Linked DNA regions of Homo sapiens: region 1 is linked to region 2. Evidence: fine-mapped expression QTL. A gene starts in region 2. The other region holds a variant in brackets. All regions are shown on one strand. Distances are from middle to middle.

The links. PIP is the estimated chance that this variant, and not a neighbour inherited with it, causes the effect. A credible set is the group of variants that fine-mapping cannot tell apart.
Region 1: its variant is the best candidate, but not a certain one, in a credible set for the expression of ISCU in Th1 cells (Schmiedel 2018, PIP 0.73).

What each region holds. Positions count from the first base shown.
Region 1 is chr12:108,281,440-108,297,560 of GRCh38, reverse strand. CMKLR1 (chemerin chemokine-like receptor 1) reads left to right here. Exons shown (of 4, transcript NM_001142343.2): 3 at 3,897-3,972; 4 at 4,602-9,515. The coding sequence starts at 3,970. The coding sequence ends at 5,720. It also overlaps the pseudogene LOC196469. Among named protein-coding and RNA genes, the nearest start is that of CMKLR1, 50 kb to the left of the region's middle. The variant T/C (reference allele first, on the strand shown) is at 8,562.
Region 2 is chr12:108,558,629-108,567,200 of GRCh38, reverse strand. ISCU (iron-sulfur cluster assembly enzyme) reads right to left here and starts at 4,605. Exons shown (of 5, transcript NM_213595.4): 1 at 4,465-4,605; 2 at 2,809-2,922; 3 at 1,770-1,880; 4 at 1-11. The coding sequence starts at 4,578. It overlaps SART3 (spliceosome associated factor 3, U4/U6 recycling protein), which reads left to right and starts at 6,028. Exons shown (of 19, transcript NM_014706.4): 1 at 6,028-6,358. The coding sequence starts at 6,047. RefSeq lists enhancers at 685-734, 4,116-4,185, 4,716-4,795, 4,866-4,925, 5,780-5,879 and 1 more and silencers at 3,376-3,425, 4,386-4,505.

The DNA.
Region 1 (16,121 bases), 270 kb after region 2:
AAAGCACATACAGTGAGAGATCAAGCAAACGTTAACTATATGTATGTACATATTATGTACACTGGACCCTTGAACAAGTCAGGGGTTAGGGGAGCCAACTCACTGTACAGTCAAAAATCCACATATAACTTTTGACTCCCCCAAAATTTAACTACTGACAGCCTCCTGTTGACCAGAAGTCTTGTTAATAACATATGCAGCCAATTGACACGTATTTTTTTATGTTATATGTATTATATTCTGTACTCATACAATCAAGTAAGCTAGAGAAAAAGAAAATGTTATTAAGAAAATCATAAGGAAGAGAGAATATATTTACTATTTATTAAGTGGAAGTGGGTCACCACAAAGGTCTTCATCCTCATTGTTTTCATGTTGAGTAGGCTGAGGAACAGGAAGAGGAGGGGTTGGTTTTGCTGTCTCAGGGGTGGCAGAGGCAGAAGAAAATTCACAAATAAGTGGACCCACGCAGTTAAAACCTGTATTGTTCAAGGGTCAGCGGTATATATAGTGACGCATATTTTTTTCATAAGCTTCCTGGTTGTGGAGGATTTAAGGAATTTGGGTAACTAGAATTTTACAGCTCTTTATAATTCACAATTGGCAAAGGCTTCATTGTCATTTCACATGATTCTCCCAACAACACGAGGAAGGTGTTCTTACCCCCACTTGAGAGGAGAGGACATTGGAGCTTAGAGAAGCAAAATCCTTACCTGTGTCCCTCTTTTTTTTTTTTTGAAGACAGTCTCACCCTGTGGTCCAGGCTGGAGTGCAATGGCCTGATCTTGGCTCACTGCAACCTCCGCTCCTGGGTTCAAGCAATTCCCCTGCCTCAGCCTCCTGAGTAGCTGGGATTACAGGCACGTGTTGCCATGCCTGGCTAATTTTTGTATTTTTAGTAGAGACCGGGTTTCACCATGTTGCCCAGGCTGGTCTCAAACTCCTGGCCTCAAGTAATCCTCCCACCTCAGCCACCTGAAGTGCTGGGATTACAGGCATGAGCCACCGTGCCTGGCCTCTGTGTCCCTTTCTGACCTGCCCTTGATCCCACAGCTGGAGAGACAAGTGGCCAGGAACTCACTGGTCCTCTGGCTTCCTAGCCTCATCCCACCTTCCCAGGCAAAGACCATTTTAGAAGGGAGTTAAGAGTGGAAGCCTGAGAAATAATAACAATGCCAATAACAACAATATAGTGCTTACCCCATAAGGGGACCTGTTCCAAGCACTTAATCCTCACAACCATCTTCTTATGAGGCAGGAGCTATTATTATCAAGCCCATTTTACAGATAAGACAACTGAGTTGCAAAGAAGGTAACTGACTTGCCCAAGGTCACAGGGGAGTTCCTGCAGATCCAGGATGTGGATGCAGGCAGTCTGGCTGGGCCCAAGAGTCTGCTCTTCCGCTTGGTTTGGTAGCAGAAATGTGCTCAGGACAGGAGGGATGTGTGTTAGGACAGAGCAGAGGCTCAAAGCAAACCTGTGACTTGTGCCTCCCTTACGCTTCCAGAGAGAGAGGCGTCTTGGGGTGGGGGCGATGCACCAACAGGGGACACGAATCCACTCAATTCCTGGAAGGATGAGGAGTTAGGGGTGGAAGGAGGGACATGCCCAGAGGATGTCAGCATCATTCTGTGCCAGCCCAGCCTGGCCCCAGCTCTAAGATGAAAAAACATGGCCTCTGACCCCAAGCTGCTCCCAGCCCAGCCAGAGAGCCCGACATGATGTCATCTGCTTCAGGCTGCATCTCTGCAGATGCTGTGCGAAGCACTCAGTCCTGAGTCCCAGATCCTCCTCGACCTCCTCTCGGGACTCACACACCCAGCCCACTGTCAATGAGGGAGGGGAAGGTCAGAGATGGGGAGATGCCCGGCGTGCCCTTCCTCCTTTCTCTGCCTTCCACCTTCTTAACTCATACTTGTCCTTAAAACTCAACTCAGATGCCATTGGCCCCAGGAAGCTTCAGACTCCCAGGCTGGGTAACAGCCCCTCCTCTGGGCTTCTTGGGGCATTCTAGTCTTGCCCCAGCCTCAACACTGTCTCTTTGTCTCATACCTGTGAGCTCCTTTTGGGAAGGGACCCTAGTAAGGCCATGTCCTCATCCCTGGTGCCTGCACCGTTTGGCACAGGGAATGTCAACTTGGTCATTTCTTCCAAAAGGAAGGTTGGTGATGGTCATCAATCTGAGCAGATCATGGTCTCAGGGGCAGTGTGGAGTGACAGTTAAGAGCTCAGGCTTTGCAGATGTGGTTCAAATCCCAGCTCTTCCAGCCCCTGCCTGCATGCTTGGGCATGGGTCCTGATCTCTCTGAGCCCTGCTGTAGCCCCTTATGGGGTTAAAGTGAGACCATCTGGACTGAGGGCTTAACATGGTCCCTGGCATACACAAGAGCTCAATGTGCATTCCCCACTACTGTCATGCACACCTGTCAGGTTACCTCCAGTCATGGGAGGCCAGCTCCAGTGTCCCCATCTTCTCTCTGCATTCCAGTGCCATAGAAAACCCTTGGAGACCCCTTGGTGGGCACTTCTGAAATATTGTCCCAGCATAGAGTGGGATAACACCCAAGCTTTGATTGTGAGCCCTCTGAGTGCAAAGCCCTCAATGGAATTTTCCAAGTGGCTTTTATTTAATAAAAGCAAAAGATGACTTTTATGTAATAAAATATAACCTTAAGCTGGGAAGGATCAGTAATGAATTTATGTGCAGGAAGGTTGGAGTTATTTATAATAAAGCATTGATTAGCAGCCTTGTGAAGCTGAAATATCTGGTTTGGAGCCCATTTGACAAGATGGGGAGATCATGAGCCGCAGAAAAAAGTGCATGGGCTCTGGGGTATCAGAGCCTTGGTTTTAAATCCTGCTTATCAGCTGTGCACCTCTAGGCAATAATGCAATCACTAGTATTTATTGAGGGCTTACTATGTGCCAATACCAAGCTAAATGCTCCACATTTCTGATGCTTCTAGTTCTTATATACACTCTGTGAGGTGAGAAATCCCATTTATTGGTAAGAAAACTGAGATTCAGGGAAGAGAAATCACTTGCCCAAAGCCACACAGCTCATAAGTGTCCGGGGTTAGGTATGAACCCTGCATGTGATCACTGCCTCCAAGATCTTGCAAACTTGCAAACTCCTCAGAATATGTTTGTTCTTCCATAGACTGGAAAAATACTCAGCAAGATTGTTATGGGGCTTGTTTAAAGTGCCACTTAAGTTGTCTGCACAGCGGAGGCTCAGTGGATATATTTGTGTCTGTCTTCACACCAGACTGCTGTGGCTTCAGAGCCTGCATCTCATTCATGGTTCCCATAGGGCCCAGAGAATATCCAGCAAGAATGATGCTTCTTTCTCTGAGCCTCAGTCTCTCTATTTCTTAACACAAAAGGAATAACACCTGCCTGGAAAAGTCCCAAGGAAGACTAAATAACAAGAAAGAATAAAAGTTCTTGGCACATAGCAGGTACTCTGTGTGGGTCTTCTCCTGTTTTCTCTGTGCTCACACTTCCTAAAACAGTATTTTGTGGGTCCTGCCCTGGTAGTGGAGTTGAGTCCCGACCTGGTAGTGGATTGAGCCATCCATGTACCTCCTCTGTGTCTTCCTTTACTCATGCCCGACTCCAGCTGTCAGCTAGGGATGTGCTGGGAGAGGGGAGTGGTTAGAATGAAGAGTCCAGCACTTGACCTGGGAAGAGTCAGTTGACCTAGGTTCAAGGGGCTCCATCCCTTCCTGGCTGCATAACCTTGGCTGAATAACAGCCTTTCTGAACTTCTGCTTCCTTCTCTGTAAAATGGGAATAAGAACAACAGATCTTATTTCTGGCTGGGTCCACTCAACCCTCTGGTTCTTAGACCTGGATCCAATTGCTGCTTTTTTTTTTTTTTTTTTCCCTACAGGTGTTTCTAGCTGTGTACAGGGACTGATTGGCTGAGGACTCACATTGGAGAGCTGCAGACAACATAACGGTGAATGGTGAGGAAGTCTTGTGGTCTGAACTCCAAAGGGCACCAGTGACCACTGACAGATTGGGTGCACAGGGGGATCACAACAAGGCTGTCCACTTGGTTTTAGAAGCATGTTGGAATCAAGTTCACAGCACCATGTACCTCTTCTTCATTGCACTTAGCATTATTGCAATGTTCCCATTATTTGAGGGACTTTTTGATGAACAATTGTCTCCCCCACTAGGCTCTAGAGGAAGACAGGGCCCCAAGCAGACAGAAAACATGGTTGTCAAAAGGATAGACTCTGAAGCTTGGATTCAAATCACAGGTCTGCCTTTTCCTAGCTGTAGGACTTCAGGCAAATGACATAAGCTCTCTGTGACTCAGTTTCCTCATTTGTAAGTTGAGGCTCATAACCTACCTACCTCATTGAGTTACTGTGAAGATTAAGAGAGTGTAGAATGCAATAGTGCCTGGCATGTAGGAGGTACCAGAGAGGCATTTGTTCAATAAATAAAATAGCAAAGAAGGAAATGGTTAAATCACAAAACTGGACTTGCTCAGAGTCAGGGGGAACATTGTTGGTCTTGCTGGTATTGGTCAACCTCTTAAAGCCAACTCTAGGGTTCCTCTAATGGTCCCTGTCTTCTCTTGCAGAGAATGGAGGATGAAGATTACAACACTTCCATCAGTTACGGTGATGAATACCCTGATTATTTAGACTCCATTGTGGTTTTGGAGGACTTATCCCCCTTGGAAGCCAGGGTGACCAGGATCTTCCTGGTGGTGGTCTACAGCATCGTCTGCTTCCTCGGGATTCTGGGCAATGGTCTGGTGATCATCATTGCCACCTTCAAGATGAAGAAGACAGTGAACATGGTCTGGTTCCTCAACCTGGCAGTGGCAGATTTCCTGTTCAACGTCTTCCTCCCAATCCATATCACCTATGCCGCCATGGACTACCACTGGGTTTTCGGGACAGCCATGTGCAAGATCAGCAACTTCCTTCTCATCCACAACATGTTCACCAGCGTCTTCCTGCTGACCATCATCAGCTCTGACCGCTGCATCTCTGTGCTCCTCCCTGTCTGGTCCCAGAACCACCGCAGCGTTCGCCTGGCTTACATGGCCTGCATGGTCATCTGGGTCCTGGCTTTCTTCTTGAGTTCCCCATCTCTCGTCTTCCGGGACACAGCCAACCTGCATGGGAAAATATCCTGCTTCAACAACTTCAGCCTGTCCACACCTGGGTCTTCCTCGTGGCCCACTCACTCCCAAATGGACCCTGTGGGGTATAGCCGGCACATGGTGGTGACTGTCACCCGCTTCCTCTGTGGCTTCCTGGTCCCAGTCCTCATCATCACAGCTTGCTACCTCACCATCGTGTGCAAACTGCAGCGCAACCGCCTGGCCAAGACCAAGAAGCCCTTCAAGATTATTGTGACCATCATCATTACCTTCTTCCTCTGCTGGTGCCCCTACCACACACTCAACCTCCTAGAGCTCCACCACACTGCCATGCCTGGCTCTGTCTTCAGCCTGGGTTTGCCCCTGGCCACTGCCCTTGCCATTGCCAACAGCTGCATGAACCCCATTCTGTATGTTTTCATGGGTCAGGACTTCAAGAAGTTCAAGGTGGCCCTCTTCTCTCGCCTGGTCAATGCTCTAAGTGAAGATACAGGCCACTCTTCCTACCCCAGCCATAGAAGCTTTACCAAGATGTCATCAATGAATGAGAGGACTTCTATGAATGAGAGGGAGACCGGCATGCTTTGATCCTCACTGTGGAACCCCTCAATGGACTCTCTCAACCCAGGGACACCCAAGGATATGTCTTCTGAAGATCAAGGCAAGAACCTCTTTAGCATCCACCAATTTTCACTGCATTTTGCATGGGATGAACAGTGTTTTATGCTGGGAATCTAGGGCCTGGAACCCCTTTCTTCTAGTGGACAGAACATGCTGTGTTCCATACAGCCTTGGACTAGCAATTTATGCTTCTTGGGAGGCCAGCCTTGACTGACTCAAAGCAAAAAAGGAAGAATTCTCAAAAGCATTGCCATGAACTGGGATTGGCATAGGGCGGTGGGATTAAGCTGCCTATTGTGTGTGCCCCAGAAATGACACTCTCCAAGGTCCATTCCTGGTGTGAGCAGTGAGGGGGTCAGAGCAAACCCAGTGTGATGCAGATCACACTTGGCCCTTGTATATATATTATCAGTAGCTGGCCAGAAAACCCTACCTTCAAGTCACTGCTCTGTGTTAAAGTATGTGGAAATGCATAGGTGATCTGGGAGAGGAAGGTGACATATCAGCCCATGAACTCCATAGGCCATGAATTTGGCTTTCGGATCAGCTAGGAAGACAGAGAACTGGTCCTGAGAGGTCCTGTGGGCTCTTTGCAAGGGCAAGACAAGTGAGGGATGCAACGAGGACTTGAGATTTGGCAAAGAAATGAGAAAGGAGAAAAGAACCTTTAAAGGATGCAGGCATGGAGCAGCTCACCCTAGAACATCGCAGGCTGATGGTGCTTTAGGCTGGAGCTATTTGGGGCGTCAGGGTGGTGCCAGCCCCTGATCTCACCTTGCCCCTCTTACCTGGGGGTGGGGTTGTGGCAGGCATCTTCACCAGCAGCCCTCACCCCATCACAGGGATTTTTTTCTGCCTTTCCTAATCCACTCAGCTCTGGCTGGAGGTGCTTAGAATAAAACACTGGTGGTGGGGCTTCTCATTCTGGTTAATTTCCTCAACGCCTTTGGAGACAGGTCCAAAATGCAGCTTTGGGAAGCAACTCCGGAGAGTCCCCTGGGAAGAAGAGTATGTCCGAGGACTCAGTCACTTGAGACAGAGTCTGGAGCTGGACTCCTTGAACTGTGTTTCTGAGCTGCAGACACCAAATACCTCCTGGATACAGGTGCCTGGCATGGCTTTTCTCATCTAATACTGACACGTCCCTGTGGCCACAGAGTGTCATAGCCCCATTTACAAATGACATAGCTGAGGCCCAGATGGGGAAAGTAACTTGCCCAGCATCACACAGCTAATCAGTGGCAGAGTTAAGATCTGAACCTGGCTCCGTCTGGCTCCAGAAACTCTGTTCTTCTATTTGGAATTTATCTGTGGAGATTATTCTAGTATATTGATAGCCTACATTTATTTAGCACTTTTTATATTATGCACTTTACATATGTTTTCTCATTTAATCATTACAGCAACCCTGAGTTAGGTATGGTTATAACTTCCCTTTTACATAGGAGGAATCTGAGGCTTAGAGAGGTTAAGTAACTTGCCCAAAGGTACCCAGCTAGTCTCTGCCGGAGCTTGGATTTGAACTTCAGTTTGCCTGGCTCAAATGAGGCTGCAGAGTTGGGAAGGACTTAAAAAGTTTGGAGATTTTTGCCATAAATATTGATTTTTCTGCAAATGAGGATGAACATCTTAATGGCCTTTAAGAAACTTTGCAAATAGTTTTCAAAAATGATGCAACATGGCAGAGAAAATGCACTTGGCTTCCAGCTCCCTCAACAGCCATTAACAGCCTCCTACCGTGGCTCCCACCTCCTATGTCTCCAGAGATCAAGGCAATGGGGAGGGAAAGCTGGCAGGAGGCAGTCCCTTGTGGGCCTGAGGCCCTTTGGCTCCTAAGTGTCCACATTCTGTTCTCTTCCAAGTCCCTTCATTGTTAAGCTGATTCTCCAACAAGATGCAATGAACAGATGCAATGTCTACCCCGCGCTGGGCGAGTTCCCGAGGCCATGGGCTGTTTGGAATCACACTTCATTAAGAGACAAACTGTTCCTTCCCTTATTGTGCCTTAATGCTTATGACAAGGCAGCTCTGAATTGATCCCAAGCTGGAGCCTCTGAATGCTTTAAAGAGTTTGAATATAGACGGTTTGAGAGCAAAAAGGGAGCTTTAAATATTGCTCAGTGGCCCCCATCTCCCCTCTTCCCACATTTACTGAGGCACGAGATGGGATGGGACCTGTCCCGGGTCACAGCAGCAGTCGTCAGCGCCTTGGCCCTCCTGGCTTGTAGGATGCTGCTTTTCCTGGGCTTCTGGCAGTCCAGGCCAGGATGGGGGAGCCAGGAATTCATGTTGTCATTGGAAAAGCTGATAAACAGGAGCACAATTCAAACCGGCTGTTTTCCTCCTTAGAGTCTGGCCTCCCTCTTTCTGGCTGCTCTGTGGGTCTTCCTGTTCTGACTTAGGTTCCTGTCAAGTACTTAAATGCAGCCTTAACATCCCATACAGTCTTGTCCCCACAGCTTCATGTGAACATCTCCATGGGTCATGCATATATCGTCCCTGCAGTGTGCAAAGTGTGCTCACCTGCACTGCTGCACAGGCAACCAACATACTTAGTGCCCAGAGCCTTCTCTCTGGGCCCAGGACTCAGTGATGGGGCCTTACTTAGCCCTGCCTCCTGGGTGGGGTGGGGGAGCTGAGGGATCGTGAGGACAAGAGGTAGAGGGAAAAGAAAAGAAGATGGTGTTTGAGGATAGGGGAGGGACAGGAGAGGGGACAGAAAGGTCCCAGAGCATGATGATGAAGGAAAGGGATCTGGCATTCATGAAGCACCTACGATGGTTCAGGCACAAACACTGAAACCTCAAA[T/C]TGGCCCTGGCAGAAGGGGACCATCATAGCAAGGTGGGGGGGGGGTGCAGAAAGTGAGTTTCTGTTTCAAGAACAGACTTCACTAGTTCAGAGTTGCACAGCTAGTGAGGTATGGAGCTGGGCTTTGAATCAGGTCAGCTGCCTGAATGCCCAACTTCTTCAGCCCTTGGAAGGAGAGGGTGGGGAGAAGAAGAAGGAAAAGACAAGGAAGAAAGAAAGAAGAGAGAAGGGGAGAGGAATGGAAGTCCAAAGAGTGGGAGGAATTTGATTTCAGAACCATCTCCAGCTGACCCTTGAGCCAGCAAGGACAGGGAGAAGGGAAGAGCAAGAACACGAAGGGCCTCAAGCACCGGGATGCCTTTGCCAGCCTTAGATAATTCCCAGAGCGCACAGAGCCCTGCAGGTTCCTGGGTCCTTCTCCAGAGAAGAGGCACAGAGATTCTGGCAGCAAGGTTCAGAAGGGGTGAGGAAACTGGGCACTGACAAAGGGAGGGGATTGGCTCAAATTCGACCCCAGAGTCAGCTCTGGTGGGGTTGGGAGCCTGGATGGGTGGGAGAAGATAGAATCCAATCGTGAAAACCATAAGGGACCTTCAAACTCATCTTGCCCAGATGTCTCCCATTTCACAGATGAGGGAACTGAGGTTTTGAGAGCTTCCCCTGAGGACTCTGCAAAACGAGGTGGTGTCTGGTTTGGATGAAAGTGGTCGGTGATTCCTCAACTCCTGCCCTGCCTCCCTCTCTCGTTCCTCCCTAACATGTTATGCTCTTGTTGGGGCTGGGATGCCCTAGGCCCAAGGTTACCAAATCCTGGGTTTGGAAAATTGCTGCTGGGGGTGGTATCTAGGACCAGAGAGGAATCTACTATTTCTACTGTGAAATAATTCAGCAGGGGGTCTTCTTACTTCTTCCCTTTGAGGACAAAGTTTCTCTCGAATAAAGAGACTGAAGCAAGAGTGTGTGGCTCAGTTCTGGGGGTTCCTGCCATCACCTCCCTTTTGCCTTCCTCACTTACTTCACAGAACAGCAGCTGAGGCTCAGAGAGGTGAGGCGGCCAGTGCAAAGTCACAGAGCTATGTTGTGGGCAGCAGGAGAAGCCCTGAAGTCCCCAACCTGCCATTCTCAAACCTTCGAGCTCCAAGAAATTTGCATTTTGAAAAAAATTCTTTTCACTTATTTTGCTTTTCTAGCAACTGAGGATGTGAAAGAGGTAGTTACTCACCCAAGATAATATAGTAAACCCTAGCAGATAAGGGACATAAAGCCAGGCCTCCTCATGGTCAGGTCTATACTCTTTGGCACTGCATCAGGTGGCCCAAGGACAGATGCTCCTGTGACACATTCATCCATTCACCTTTTCACCAACCCATTCACCCTAACATCCACCCACCTATCCACCCACCCATTCACTCCAAGATCTACCCATCCACCCATTCACCCCAAGATTCACCCACCCATCCACCCACCCATTCACCCACTCATTCACCCCAAGATCCACCCACCTATCCAACCATCTATTCACCCCAATATCCACTCACACATCCACCATCCATTCACTTTAATATCCACCCACACATCCACCCACCCATTCACCCACTCATTCACCGCAAGATCCATTCACCCATCCACCCACCCATTATCCCAAGATGAGCTCACCCATCCACCCCAACATCCACTCATCCACCCACTTACCCACTGACTCCGACATCCACTCACCCAGCCATTCATCTCAACATTCGCCTAGCCATCCATCCACTCACCCATTCACTTACATAACCATCTATCTATCCACCCATTCATCCATTCCATTAAAATGTATTTAACAGCTACTCTTTTGCTAATTCTGTGGTAGGCACTATATACAGAGAGATGATCAAGACGTACACAGCCTCTGTCCTCCTGAGCTCATTCATTGACTTATGAGAGAGACAGCCAATAATCAAAATTATACACGTCCCCCAATGGGAAACAACCCCAGGAAATGTTTTCTCTGTTGCCCAGGCTGGAATGCTATGGCACGATCACTTTAGCCTTGACCTCCCTGGGCTCAGGTGATCCTCCCATCTCAGCCTCCGGAGTAGCTGGAACCTCAAGCACATGCCATCACACCCAGCTAATTTTTGTATTTTTTATTTTATTTTATTTTTTGTAGAGACAGGGTTTCTCCATGTTGACCAGGCTGGTCTTGAATTCCTGGGCTCAAGTGATCCTCCTGCCTCAGACGTCCATAGTGCTGGGATTACAGGCGTGAGCCATGGTGCCAGGCCTGCACACACATTATAGAGGGATCCGATCCTGTCCAAAGACTAAGGAAACTTCCTTGGGGAGGGGACACTTGAGCTGACATGTGGAAGATGGGTGGGCACGGATGTGGTAAGGAGGTGCAGGAGGAGGGTGCTCCAGGTGGAGGGGACAGCAGGGGCAGTGGCATTGATGCAAGAGGGAGCAATGCTCACAGTGACGGGAAGTGGTGGGGGTGGGGGGCTGGCTGCAAGGAGGGTGTAGGATGAGTGAGACCAGGTGGGGGTGGAGTGGAAGGGCCAGGCAGTGGGGGAGACCTTCACCCTGAGATGCGGCAGCCATGTGCAGGGGAGTGCCATGCTCAGATCTGCATGCTGGAACAATGCCCCTAGCTGCTCTGGGGAGGACAGGTTGGAGAGGGGCAGAGTGGGAAGCCCGGAGGCTACTGCAGCCTCAGATGAGCCATGGTGGAATCTGGACTGGGGAAACAGAAGCGATGCTGGAGAGAAATGGACTATTGGAAAGATATTTAAAAGCTACCCAAGCTTTCTCAGGGGAGTGGTTAGTGGGAAACCAACCCAGGGCCCATTTCTGCTACACAGAGGCCTCGGTGCATTGCTTTATTGTCTGAAATTAATTGTAAATATTATTCAAATGTACCACCCAATGCACAATTATATTTCTCAGGGGAGCCCTCTGAACACATAATAAAGCCCTATAAATAATACATATATTAACCTAAGAGGAACAGAGGCATGTTAATGCTGCAATTGCAGGTTGTGCTGTGGGGACTTTATACAGATGAGATGCCAAGCACTTGGACTTGGGGTTTGACCTTGGGGGTCACCTGAGTTCTGTCCTGGGGAATCTTCCAGAAGTCTCTCCCCCTGGGATATGGGGATACCCCCAGACAAGTCAGGCAGCTACTGCTCTAGGTATCTAGTCAATAGACAGGTGGGGGCAAGATGAGAGTTGGTGAGGGAGGAAGAAGCACAGGTCTATAAAACACTTACCTTGTGCTCAAAGATGCAGAAACAGCAACAGCAGTAATAATAGCAAATACTAATTCAGCCTTGTCTAAGTTTTGGGCAAGCTCTTCAGTTTCATTGTCTCATTGAGTCCTTGCAACAAGGATTTCACAGTAGGGGTATTGCTATCTCCATACACAAGTGAAGAGATTGAGGTTCAGAAAGGTGAAGTGACTTTGCCCGATGCCACACAGCTGGTAAGTGACAGAGCTGGGATTCAAACCCCAGTATGTTTATCTTGAAAGCTCCTGCTGTTTTCCCCAGAAATGTGCAAATGCAAAATGTCCTCTGTAGAGACCCTTCCCTGGAGAGAAGAGGACAAGAACATATTCTCTTTCCCATGTCAAATTTTGAAGATGTGGGAGTCGGGGAGTCTGAGGAATTGCTTTTTCCTTGAGAGGAGGAAATTGCATTTGAATGGGCTTGTCACTTTCTCACAACCCTGAGAATCTTAGGGTTTTTGCGTTTGGAAAGGACTACTTCCTCAAGTTTGTCCCTTCCTGTTCCCCCATTTCACAGATGGTGAAACTGAGACCTCTTTGCAAATAAGATGGAGACCACCTGCCTCACTGACTGCTGGGAGATGAGAAGTGTGTGAAAATGCTCACCTGAGTCACTCTTAAAACACCATCACCCCAGAGACCTGAGCATTCACCAAGCCACCCTGCTTCACTTCTTAGTTTATTGACAAGCACTTTGGTGCTAATCTGCTGTAAAGAATTTCTGCCCAGGGTCTGGGCTCCCCTGAGGAGTTTCCAGCAGAATCCTGGCTGAAGGGGAGGCGGGAGATCTTGGCAAAAACTGCTGTAGGGCAGACATGCTTTGTTTGGGGGCATAAATGTTACTCTTAAAGATTGTCCTGAATATGAGTGAGGGATGCTCCCCATCTTGACCTAGATAGTGGTTACACGGGGTAAGGGGTGGGGAATGGGGGTTCATCTGTAAAAACCCAATTATCTGTACATTGAAGACGAACGCACTTCACTATAGTAAGTTATGCCTCAGCAAAAGTCTTTGTAAAAATAAAATAATTCATGTTGTCTGCAGAAATGAGTTCCCACCTCCACTGGTACCCAGGACAGGTAGTGGCAGGACAGGACCAGGTCTGACGGTTTGTCCTTGATTCAAGAGAGCATTTTAGAGGGCAGTGGCTCCTGCAGCATCCATCCAAAGAGGTAGAGTCTCAGGAAGGACTAAGCCCTCCTGGGGGCCTCCCCAGCCTCACCACCTGACTCAAAGGGACTTTGATGTTTATGACACCGGGTCAGGTAGGCTCAGGAATCAGACTGCGAGGGCTCGAATCCAAGCTCTGCTATTTACGTCAGCTAAGGGCAGGGTTAGAGTTAGGCTCTGTGACCTTGGGCAAGCTATTCAATGCCTCCGAAGCCTCAGTTTTCTCCTCTGTATGACAAAGGGCATGATAAAGGTTTGCAGCTGTGAGGATTCAGTGAGATTGCTGCACTTTAGCGTTTAGCAGGTGCCAGGCTCTTTCATCTGAATATGCATCGGCTTTCTTGCTGGCCTCCCCACTTCTGTCTTTGCTCCCTCAACCCACACTGTAGGAAGCAGCCAGAGTGAGCTTTTATCACAGAATACAGTAATCCAGAGCCCTTACTATGGCATCAAAACCCCTATGTGATCGGCTACTGCCTCCTTCTCTAAGTTCATCTCATGCTGCTTTCCAGCTAGGTGATCCTTTCTGCCTCTCAAGCAAAATGAAACAAACAGATCAACAGCAACAATACAGCCAAGATTGGTCCCACCTCAGGCCCTTGCACTTGCTATTCCTGCTGTTTCTGGGCCCACTTGCCTCTTCCCTTTGCATGACTGATTCGTCCGCCTCCTTCTGGTCTCAGTCCAAATGCCATCTCCTCAGACAGGCCATGCTAAGGTAGCCTCCATCCCTACTCGCTGCCTATCAGATCCCTATTTTGTATTAGTGTTTTCTTTATACTAGTTACTGCCATCTGAAATCATATTATTATGTGTGTATTTAGTGGCCTTAAGTCTGGCCCCTACTTGGATCCAGCAAGATGGCAGGGACTTTGGCCACCTTATTGTATCCCTAGCAGTGCTTAGCCCAGAAAAGCTGCTCATAACTTCTGGTTGAATGAATGAAGACATTATCATAAGCTGACATTATTTTTGCCATCATCATCATCGAGTTTCATGACAATCACTTTTATAATACACCGTTTCCAAAGTATTTTCACATTTTTTTCCTATCTTAATGAAACCTGGGGAGGGTGGGATTTTTCCTCATTTCACCAACATGGAAACTGAGGTCGCAGGTCACTTAGTTTAGAAGTGGAGGAGACACAGTTCTTTACTTGTGCCATTAAGAGTAATCACAGGCTGGGCGCGGTGGCTCAGGCCTGCAATCCCCATACTTCGGGAGGCTGAGACGGGCAGATCGCTTGAGGCCAGGAGTTTGAGGGCAGCCTTGTCAACATGGAGAAACTCCGTCTCTATTAAAAATACAAAAAAATTTAGCTGAGCATGGTGGCACACGCCTGTAATCCCAGCTACTCGGGAGGCTGAGACACAAGAGTCGCTTGAACTTGGGAGGCGTAGGTCGTAGTGAGCCAAGATCACACTAGTGCACTCCAGCCTGGGCAGCAGAGTGAGACCCTGTCTCAGAAAAAAAAAAAAAAGAGTAATCACAGACAAAGGAGGTTTCTATCAAGTGCTTCCACCTCCCTTGGCCTTTTCTTTTCCCTGTTGTCTGATTTATTACAGCCAGAAAATAAAGGAACCAGATGCCTCCCTCCTCCTCATATTGTTTTGTAGTTCTTTTCCGGACCAGGTTTCTGTTAAGGGTTTGGCTGGTACCACTGTGACCACAGACTTCCTGTGTTTATCCCTTCACTTAGAAATCATAGTCAACTGGGCATTAAAGTCTGTGCTGGACACTGGATGACGCTAAGACACCAACACACAGCCAAATACCTGGGGGTCCCGTGGGGCCCAGAAGCCTAACACAGAAAGAGGCAGATCCAGGGTATCTTTTCCCTGGTTTCCACTATGCAGATGTTTTCCACCTTCAGAGCAACATCAAGATGAGTGAACAAGTCTCCAGTTTGCCTCCAGATGTTGGGACTGCGGTTGTGGAGCAAATTCCATACAGGGAGGTGGAATGGAGGCTCTCAGCCTTGCCTGCTGGCAGATGATAGCCTGGTGGATGGCAGGCAGTTTACAATACCTAGCCCACTGCCTGGGCACCAGTGCCTTACTGGGAAGGATTGACTTGTGATGGGATTTTAGGGATGGTGACAGGCAGCCAGAGGGAACTCCACATTGGTCAACCTATTTCATCCTTATCAGAAGCTTAAATGGTAAAACCACCTTGTCTTCAGAAACGAAGAAATGCTGGGTCAGCTGAAATTCGAGCCCTCACTGTCAGAGAAGCTAAGCAGAAACATCTTAGAGGTAGGGACAGGGGACAAATTTCAGACAAAGATCATGGTCAGGGCAAGCCTGCCAAGAAGGCTGCACATGAAGCCTCAGATCAGAAACCTGATGGAGTGGATGTATCCAGGCACATTCTACTACAACTTTGAAAACAGACCCATCCTCTCAGGTTGGAACACCACCTGGCTGTGCTACAAAATGAAAACAAAGAAGGACCCCTCAAAGCCCCCTTTGGACGCAAGGATCTTTGGAGGCCAGGTCTATTCCAAGCCTGAACACCACCCAGAGATGAGATTCGTAGATTGGTTCTGCAACTCGAGGCTGCATCGTGACCAGGACTACCTGGTCATCTGGTACATCTCCTGGAGTCCCTGCTCAGAGTATGCAGGGAACGTGGCAGAGTTCCTGGCCAAGGATGGCAAGGTCACCCTGACCATCTTCGTTGCCCACCTCTACTACTTCTGGGAAGCAGATTACCAAGAGGAGCTTCACAGATGGTGTCAGAAAAAACAGTCCACATGCCAGCATGAAGATCATGAACTATGATGAATTTCAACACTGTTGGGACAAATTTGTGTACAACCAAAGAATGCTATTTGATCCTTGGAAGCAACTGAATACAAATTATGCATTACTGCACAGCATGCTGGGGGAGATTCTCAGACACATTCACTTACAATTTTACCAATGATCCTTCAGTCTCTGGGCAGCACCAGACCTACCTGTGCTGCAAGGTGGAGTGCCAAAACAATGATGCCTGGGTCCCTCTGGACCAGCAACAAGGGCATCCTACCCAGCCAGGCTTTGAATAATCTCAGTTGCTATTAAGATTTCCATGCAGAGCAGTGCTTCCTGTACCTGATTTCCTTTTGGAAGCTGG
Region 2 (8,572 bases):
GCTTCCTCCACCTGAGAGGCATAATGGAAAGATGGGCAGTTTTAGCAACACTTTATCTTGTGAGGGCCAGCCAATAAAAAAGGGAGGCCAAAGAGGCTCTCAGGGTTGGTGGGGATGATTTCTGTTTAATAACTCAAACGGCTAAGGGTCTTCTCAGGACTCCCACTTTATCAAAGCTGCAGCTGGGATTCTCAAGCATGAAGTATACACAGCTGCACTGCCTGGCTTGGGTAAGCAAAGACAGCCCAGACACTTCTCTAAGTCAGGAGTGGAACCTGTGAGAAGTCTCTTAGGGATCTGCTTGTGGCCTGTAACAGGAATCTCTTCCTTAAAAGGTAGTGATTTCCTATGCTGGTTTTGTGAATATCAGCTTCTCCGATGTCCTCATACCAAATGTTAGCCTAAATCCTTTTGACTAGAAGTGCCGAATGGCATCAGAGAGGTTGGGAAGATTTCAGGTAAGTAGCACAGTGGCAGTGGCACAGCCGAGTCAGGCCGAATGCTCTCTTTGGTGTCCCCTTTGCCTATAGGAGCATCTCCTCCAGATCAACTAAAGAGGATGCCTGGGGTCTGGTTGACAGCCCTGGGGGATAATGTGAGGCAGGCAGATCCTTGCCCATGTAGAACAGTGCCCCACTGCCTTACAGAAAACCAGATTTCCCAACAGCCAGACTCTTTGACTATGTCTATCATTCAGTTTCCCAATTCTGCTAACCCTTCTTGGTTGATTCAGGTTCTGCTCCTGAAACTCAGATGGGAGATCTCAAGGTTAAAGAAATGTCCTCTCTCCCATTTTCTGATCACAATTCACAGTCCCCTAAGGGCCAGGTTCTGGGAGCAAAAGTGCCTTGTCTCATTTCTCCCTTCACCTGAGGACAGTTCCTGACAAATCACTTCAGAGCTACCTCCTGCCACAGCAGGTTAGGTCTGAGCTTCCTGGCCCACAGGGGCTTGCCAGCCAGAAGGCCGTGAGCCACAGGAAGCAGGTGGCACGTGGCCTGGCAAACTGCTCTGCTGTGGAGCTGGCCAGCTTCCAAGCATGCTCCTCTGTGACTCAGCTCCCTGAACCTGGTCCCTTGGGGCAGCAAAGATGAGTGCCTTGCTGGTTGGCTTTTCTGAGAGGTTTTGACAGCAACTGGATTTTAGAAAGTCCAGCTCTTCACTGTGTTTGGGACCTTTGACCTCTGCAGCTACCAGGGAAAGACACTTGGGAGACAAAGGGATGAAAAAGAAGTTCTAGCTCTTTATTATCTCTGCCTTTAGAGGGCTTGCGATCAGCCACCTGGATCACTGTTCTGATTTCGTTGTTCACTTTGCCCCCACCCTTGCTGTCTTTTTGATTATTTAATCCCTCTTTTAACACAGGCTAGTTTATTTCACCAATTCTTGAAAGCCACCTAGAACCCTTCCTGAAACATGAGAGGAAATAAACAAGAAAATAACTACCTTATAACAACTCTCTGACTTGAGAAATTATAAGAGCACTGGTAACCTTAGAGAAAGCCAAAGATTTCTTTTAAATTCTATTTTGTTAGAGGGACAGGTGAGGATCTTTTTTATATGTAATTAACACCCAAACAAACAAAAAAATAAAAATGATCAACAAGAAAAAAACCCAAACAACACCTAGTAGAATGATCCATAATTCCCAATTTGAAGAAATGATAATATAATCAACATCTGCATAGGAGAAATTTTAAAAATTTAGAATATTAAAAAAAAGTCATGGTTACTTGTTTTTGACCCATTAGATTTGTGAGCCACCTTACCGTCTTTCCTTTCACCCATTCAGTGGCTAATGAGCTGGAGGCAATTGCGGAACCACAGCCAAATGTTTTAAACCTAGCATCCACAATCTTCCCCTTTTCATCCACTTGAATCTAGAAAAGAGACAAGAGTTAAGTGGTGAGTCCTGGGACCACCCTCTGGAACCTGGCACTCACGAAGGTTCACCAGGGCCTTCCCCAAGGGCTTTGGGCTTGCTTTCCACACTAAGTGATGGCATTAATTACTGACTTTGCCTTGTTTCAAAGAGCTCAGTGATGAAAAGTGAAATGCAGGGACAACTATCCAGGCCCAACTGACAAAGATCAGCTGAAAAATATGTCCCTCCACTCCAATATTCTTTTGTTTTGTGACTCTGGCCTGCATTTTGGCTATGAACTTCTATTTGTGGAAGTCTGCTCACAGCTGCTGGGGCAATCTGGCCTCTTTAAACACTGACAGAGTCCACAATAAAGGTCTCTGGTTAATACTTTTTTCTTGGGCAGCAGATTACACTTAGTGGTTTCCTCCTGTTTTGTTTCTGTATTCCAAGATAGGTATGAAGACCTCTGGCAAGCTGCCCACTCACCATGAAGCAGCAGATTGGTGCTACAACTACAGTTTACCCAAAGCACTAGACACTATTTTCATGTTTCCCCCAATCTGGGGACAGGTTTAATTTACTGTGTTTCTTGTTTCATTGGGGACTGCTAGCTCACTGGGATTTTCCTTTGATCAGTAAAATTCACAAAACTCTTTAGTTGGCTGAAGTCAGAATTTAAACTGATACAGTGAGTACAAAAATGAGATTACTTTTCTATTTTGGAAAAAGTTGGCATAGTACACTAGCCTAGCAGGAGAGCTACGATTGAGGCCCTGCTCCAGTCATATCTAACATGGACTCATCCCATCTCACAGGAATGGAGACCAAGTGAAATGCTTGGAGATCTCACAGGAATAAAGATGGAGACCAAGTGAAATGCGCAAGTGCTTTGTAAACTTAAAGGGATTATTGTTATCACTATTAAAAAAGACTAGCCATACCTGTAATTTCATTACGTCACCACATGCTGGAGCCCCCACCAGTCCAGTTCCAACATTTTTAGATGTCTTGTCAAGGGACCCCACGTTTCTAGGATTTTCATAATGATCAACAACCTAAAATGAGAGGGTTAAGATAAATCATGTTCACTCTCTATTGGTACTGGTCTCTGGTTTGATGGTAAGCTCCTCGGTCAGCATCTTGAACCTGGCAGGCAATCACTAAATACCAAATTTCACCTGAGTAGAAAGGTCTACACTCATGTCAATGAGAACCATTTGTGACCCCCAATTCCTTTTGTGTCTCCTCTACAATACTTCACAGATTTGAGATACCTAGAAGAAAAAAAAATCAGTGAAATCATGTCTTAGTTCCATAGGATTTTTACAAAAATACTTGACTTTCACCCACCTACATCACCAGACTTGGGCTCAAACAGCAGTTTTGTTATTTTCAAATAAAATCCATCCTCAAAGGATGATTACTATTTAAAAATTCTAAAAATAACCATGGCCCAGGGAGGGAAAGCTTTCTTAGAAGCCTTAAGGTGACTGTTACACAGGGAACAATGCTATGGAATGTGTACGTTTATGTGTCTTTTAAAATAAAAACAGTGCCATTACCGTATTTCACAGCCTGTCATCACCCTGGTGCAGCAGCGCACCCTGGCTGCTGAAAGGCTGCTAGTCCAAGTTTCTTCAGGGTGTACCCTCAACAAAACACACCCCCGGGAGGGGGAGGAGTGAAGAAGCCCTTGGAGAAAGGGCAGAAGCCAGATCACAATAAACATCCATTCGAACTGGCACACAGAAGGCCTTAATAACCTTGAGGTTTGGTTACTGGTTAGTAGTAAGCACGCCGATCTTCCAGTCCCCTTTTCCCCCCATCTGACTAAGGATTTTGACTCCAAGTAAAAGGGACCTCAGGATAGTATCTAATGTAGGGGCCTTTTGTGCCACGTTGATTTATGGCATTCTTTAGTTGTTTCTCGAGTGGGAGTCTCACGTCTGGGGGACTTTGTGCCACCAGACAGCAAGGGGCTGCAGACTATGAATCTATCCCTCCTTCCCCGCCAAAAAACCCCCCAAACAAAACAAAAACATTACGCATGTTGGTTACAAGCCTGACTCCCCTATGCACTCCTAAAGCAGTAACAGAAACGGTCTCCTCGTGCTGGGGCCTATGTGCCAGGAACCATGCCAGGACTCCACGCACAGTATCCTTTGTAAGGGACAGCTGAGAGCCCCCCATTTACACCTGGGGAAACAGGTTCAGAGAGGCGCAGTGACTAGCCCAAGGTCATCTGGCCAGGGCAGCGGAGTGGCTGAAGCCGGAGCCCGCTCCGGGGGTGTGTCTGTCCCTGGACTCAGAAAGACAAGTCCCAACAGGACCCTGCCTCCTGGGCTGTTGGCGAATTTAAAATTGGGACGCACGAAGTCGCGGCCAGCGGCGGGGCCCCCTGGAAGTCGCCGCCCGATGAGCGGTAACTGTTGTTTATCAGTTGCAGTGAGCCTCACTGCGCAGCAAGGGAAAGCGAGTCAGGGCAAAGACGTGGGAGGGGACAGCTCCCAGTCCTAGCTGCGCAGAACCCCGCGGCCGCCCCTCCAGCCCAGGCCTCCGCTGAGTCGGCATTCCGCGCGTCCCTCTTTTGTCCCTACCTTCTTGTGATAGAGTCGGGCCGGGGCCGACAGCTCCCGGGCGGGCAGGCGGGGGCTCCGCAGCAGCAGAGCCGATGCCGCCCGCCTCAGACGGAAAGCCCCAGCCGCCGCCATCTTGCCGGCTTGCGCCTGCGCCAGTCCAGAGCGACGCCGAGGGGCGGGGCGCGTCTGCGAGTCGGCTCCGAGCTGGGAGCGCGCCTCTCTGACGTCACCGAAGCTTTGCGCCTGCGCTTTACCGCTCCGTGCACGCGTCCGCCTTCTGGCCCCGCCTTGACCACGCCTCTCGGGGGCGGGCGGGGTCGGGAGCGGGAAGGTCTGAAGTCGCTGGAGGGCTTGTCCTGGGTGCTGGATTCTGGTTGAGACAGGACCTCAGGGCTTCTGCAGTGTGGGGCTCAAGTTCGCTTTCACAAATCCCGCTGCGGGAATGCGGCGCAGAGGAGCACCGAGTCCACTTTTCCTAACCCTATTTTGCAGCTAAGGAAGCCGAGATTCAGGGCAGTTTAGTAAGTCCGTCCAAGGTCGCTAAGGACTTATGTTCAATTAGAATTCGAACTTGGGTAATCCTGGGTTAGAATCCTGGTTCGGTTCCTTCCTGGCTGTGTGTCCCTAGACGAATGGTACCGGCTCGCTGAGTCTGAATCTTCCCTTTTGTATTAATTCGAGGACAATTGCTTCATCATGAAGCCAGCATCTGTGTCGAGTACCTACTATGTGTCAAGGCGCTCTACTAGACCCGGGGATCCAACGGAAAGCAAAACAGACATAATTCCTGCCCATTAAGCCTGCTAATGAGGGAGCAAGGTAGAGATAGAGACACACACCAATACTTTCCTACCTCAAAAATGGGAAGCTTAAGAAGGAAACGAATACCATGTCCTGATTGAAAAAAAATGAATATGTCTATTTTTCTCTCTAAAACAACAGCAAACTCAATTTATATGTCAGTGCCTAGCAATTAAGAATTTCTAAAGAAATGCGTATTAATGTAATTTACTGTTGGTTTGCAGTATGTGATCTTATAAAACCGGAAAACTCACGTGTATTTAACGTCTACTAGGTACCAGACGTTTACATAAAGGGGAGGAATCTGGGAAATGGATTTTTCTCTTGAATGGTGAAATCGATCCTTCCCCGAGGACCTGCAGTTTTCTTTGCGTTTGAGGCGCAGTTGCTGGGGAGAGTAAACCCAAGCGCCAGGTCACACTAGGCGATAAGTAAGGCATTTAATCGAAGAATCACTTTGACCTTCTCAAGATGGCGCCAAATTCTTCACTACAGACATCACTCTCGCTCCATGACTTCCTCTATGGCTTCCACTTCCTGCCCAAAGACCCAACTTCTGTCCGAAGTTGTGACGGAACGCATGCCATTATAATGAGTTTTTATATCTGGTGGGAGCTTTTACAGGGTATAAAATAATGTGAATTTAGTGTATGTGGAGATTTTCCTGTTATCTAAGTTCCCAGTTTCTCTTTCAATGGCAAGAAAACGGGTTTTTGATAAGGCGCGCGCCGCGGGCAGCTTCTGCCTCAGCGGGTCTTCGGCGGCCGCGGGAAGACCCGAGAGTCATTAGAAGCGCAAGATGGCGACTGCGGCCGAAACCTCGGCTTCAGAACCCGAGGCTGAGTCCAAGGCTGGGCCCAAGGCTGACGGAGAGGAGGATGAGGTTAAGGCGGCTAGGACAAGGAGGAAGGTGTTATCGCGGGCTGTGGCCGCTGCGACATACAAGACCATGGGGCCAGCGTGGGATCAGCAGGAGGAAGGCGTGAGCGAGAGCGATGGGGATGAGTACGCCATGGCTTCCTCCGCGGAGAGCTCCCCCGGGGAGTACGAGTGGGAATATGACGAAGAGGAGGAGAAAAACCAGCTGGAGATTGAGAGACTGGAGGAGCAGGTGGGCCCGGGGGTGGGCAGCGGGCATCTTCCAGTCTTTCAGGTCCTCGGGTCCCCATGTCCTGGCCCGCCTCCCTAGTCCTCGGCGGCGATAAAGCCGCCAAGGCTGCAAACCCGCTTTTCGTGACAGTAGCTCCTGTCGGATTTGAGTGCTTACTGCCTGCCCATTGCCTTGCAAACGTTATCTCATTGAATCCTCGCCACGACCCTGTGAAGGAAGCCCTGTTATCTATCCCCATTTTACTGGAGGAAACTGAGGCTCGTGGAGGAAAGTTTCTTGCTCAAGATAACACTTCCTGCAAGTCAGGCCTTGTACTTTGATCCCATTCCAGAACTCCCACTCTTAACCACACGTCCAACAGTAGAAATAAACTCATTCGCAAGAGAGTGTTATTTTGTTATGTAGGAATGACGGCGATGATGAAACTTGTGGTAAGAAAAATATTGACCGCGATGGTGATAATAGAAATGGAAAGGTTTCTGGTTCTGGAGGTTAAGGCCTCAGTTCTAGCTGTTCAACTCTTGTATGTGCTTGTAAGAATTTCTTAATTTCTCTCACCCTCTCGACTTCCTTATCTGCAGATTGGGAGCAACAATTTCTGCATAATATAATTGTTGTAACAGTAACTATAGCTCAGTGCCTAGCATCTAGTCATAACATGGTCTCTCACTTGTAACCTTATGAGGTGGTGATATCTACTGTATAATCCAGGATCTCAGCAGGAAATAGGTGGCACATTTAAATTAGGATGATCTGAGAGAAACTCAATAAAGGTGTGGGTAGGGAAATCGGGAGTGAAGGTTTAGTATCCCATAGCTGGTAACTCCAGAACCTGGTGTCCATCTTTGGGCCGGAAGGGGTGAAGGGTGTGATCTGAATTGTGTGGAGAGGGCACCTGAGACCTGCTGATAACTTTGTTCAAGGGAAGCAGCCCCAGTTTCCTGTCAAGGATTGAGGTGGGGGAAGAAATACCCTGACCTCTCTTTCTTCCTCCCACCAAACTTCTGCTGGTGCCTCCTGCTGGGCAGACCCATCTGGAAGCTGGAGAGCCAGGAAACCTGTGCATGAGGTCTATACTCGGGGACACAGGGCAGGGAGGAGAGGGTAGGGTGTTTTTTGGAGGGGGCAAACAGAAGAGATGGAGCACATTCTCTCTTTTTTTTTTTTTTTTTTTTTTTGAGACAGAGTCTCGCCCTGTCACCCAGACTGGAGTGCAATGGCACCATCTCGTGTCACTGCAACCTCTGCCGCCCTGGTTCAAGCGATTCTCCTGCCTCAGCCTCCCCAGTAGCTGGGATCCAGGCACGCACCATTGCGCCCGGCTGATTTCTGTATTTTTAGTAGAGACGGGGTTTCACCATGTTGGTCAGGCTGCTCTTGAATTCCTGACCTCAGGTGATCCACCCACCTTGGCCTCCCGTAGTGCTGAGATTACAGGTGTGAGCCGCTACGCCCGGCCCGCATTCTCTTTTTACAGATGAAGAAACAGAGGTTCAGAACAAATGATGAAATGATTTCCTTTAAGTTATTCATAGTGGGATTTACACTTAAAATGTGGACTAGATGCCACACTGGATGTGAAATCACTCAGTGAATGTGAAGTTGCTAATCTAGTTTACTCATTAAACCTTACTGAGTGTCAGTTTCCTTATAATACTCTCTCTGGCACTGATATTTTTGTTATGAGATAGTGATGTCATCCATTGGTATAGCTTGTCCCACCCATTACATCTGATTGTCAGAGGAACCTGTTGGGGTTGGCAGGTGGTTAGCATTTCTACTTTTTTTTTTTTTTTTTTTTTTCTTTTTTGAGACGGAGTCTTGCTCTGTGGCCCAGGCTGGAGTGCAGTGGCACGATCTCGGCTCACTGCAAGCTCCGCCTCCCGGGTTCATGCCATTCTCCTGCCTCAGCCCCCCGAGTAGCTGGGACTACAGGCGCCCGCCACCAAGTCCGGCTAATTTTTACTATTTTTAGTAGAGATGGGGTTTCACCGTTTTAGCCAGGATGGTCTCGATCTCCTGACCTCGTGATCCGCCCGCCTCGGCCTCCCAAAGTGCTGGGATTACAGGCGTGAGCCACCGCGCCTGCCCTCTACTTTTTATAAATAAGTGTGCTGAAGCTAATTTAGTCTTACTCATTCAGCAAACACAGCGTGACACTGGGTACCAGATTGACTGTGTCCCTGCCCTTGTTGATGTCATTTCTTCAGACTG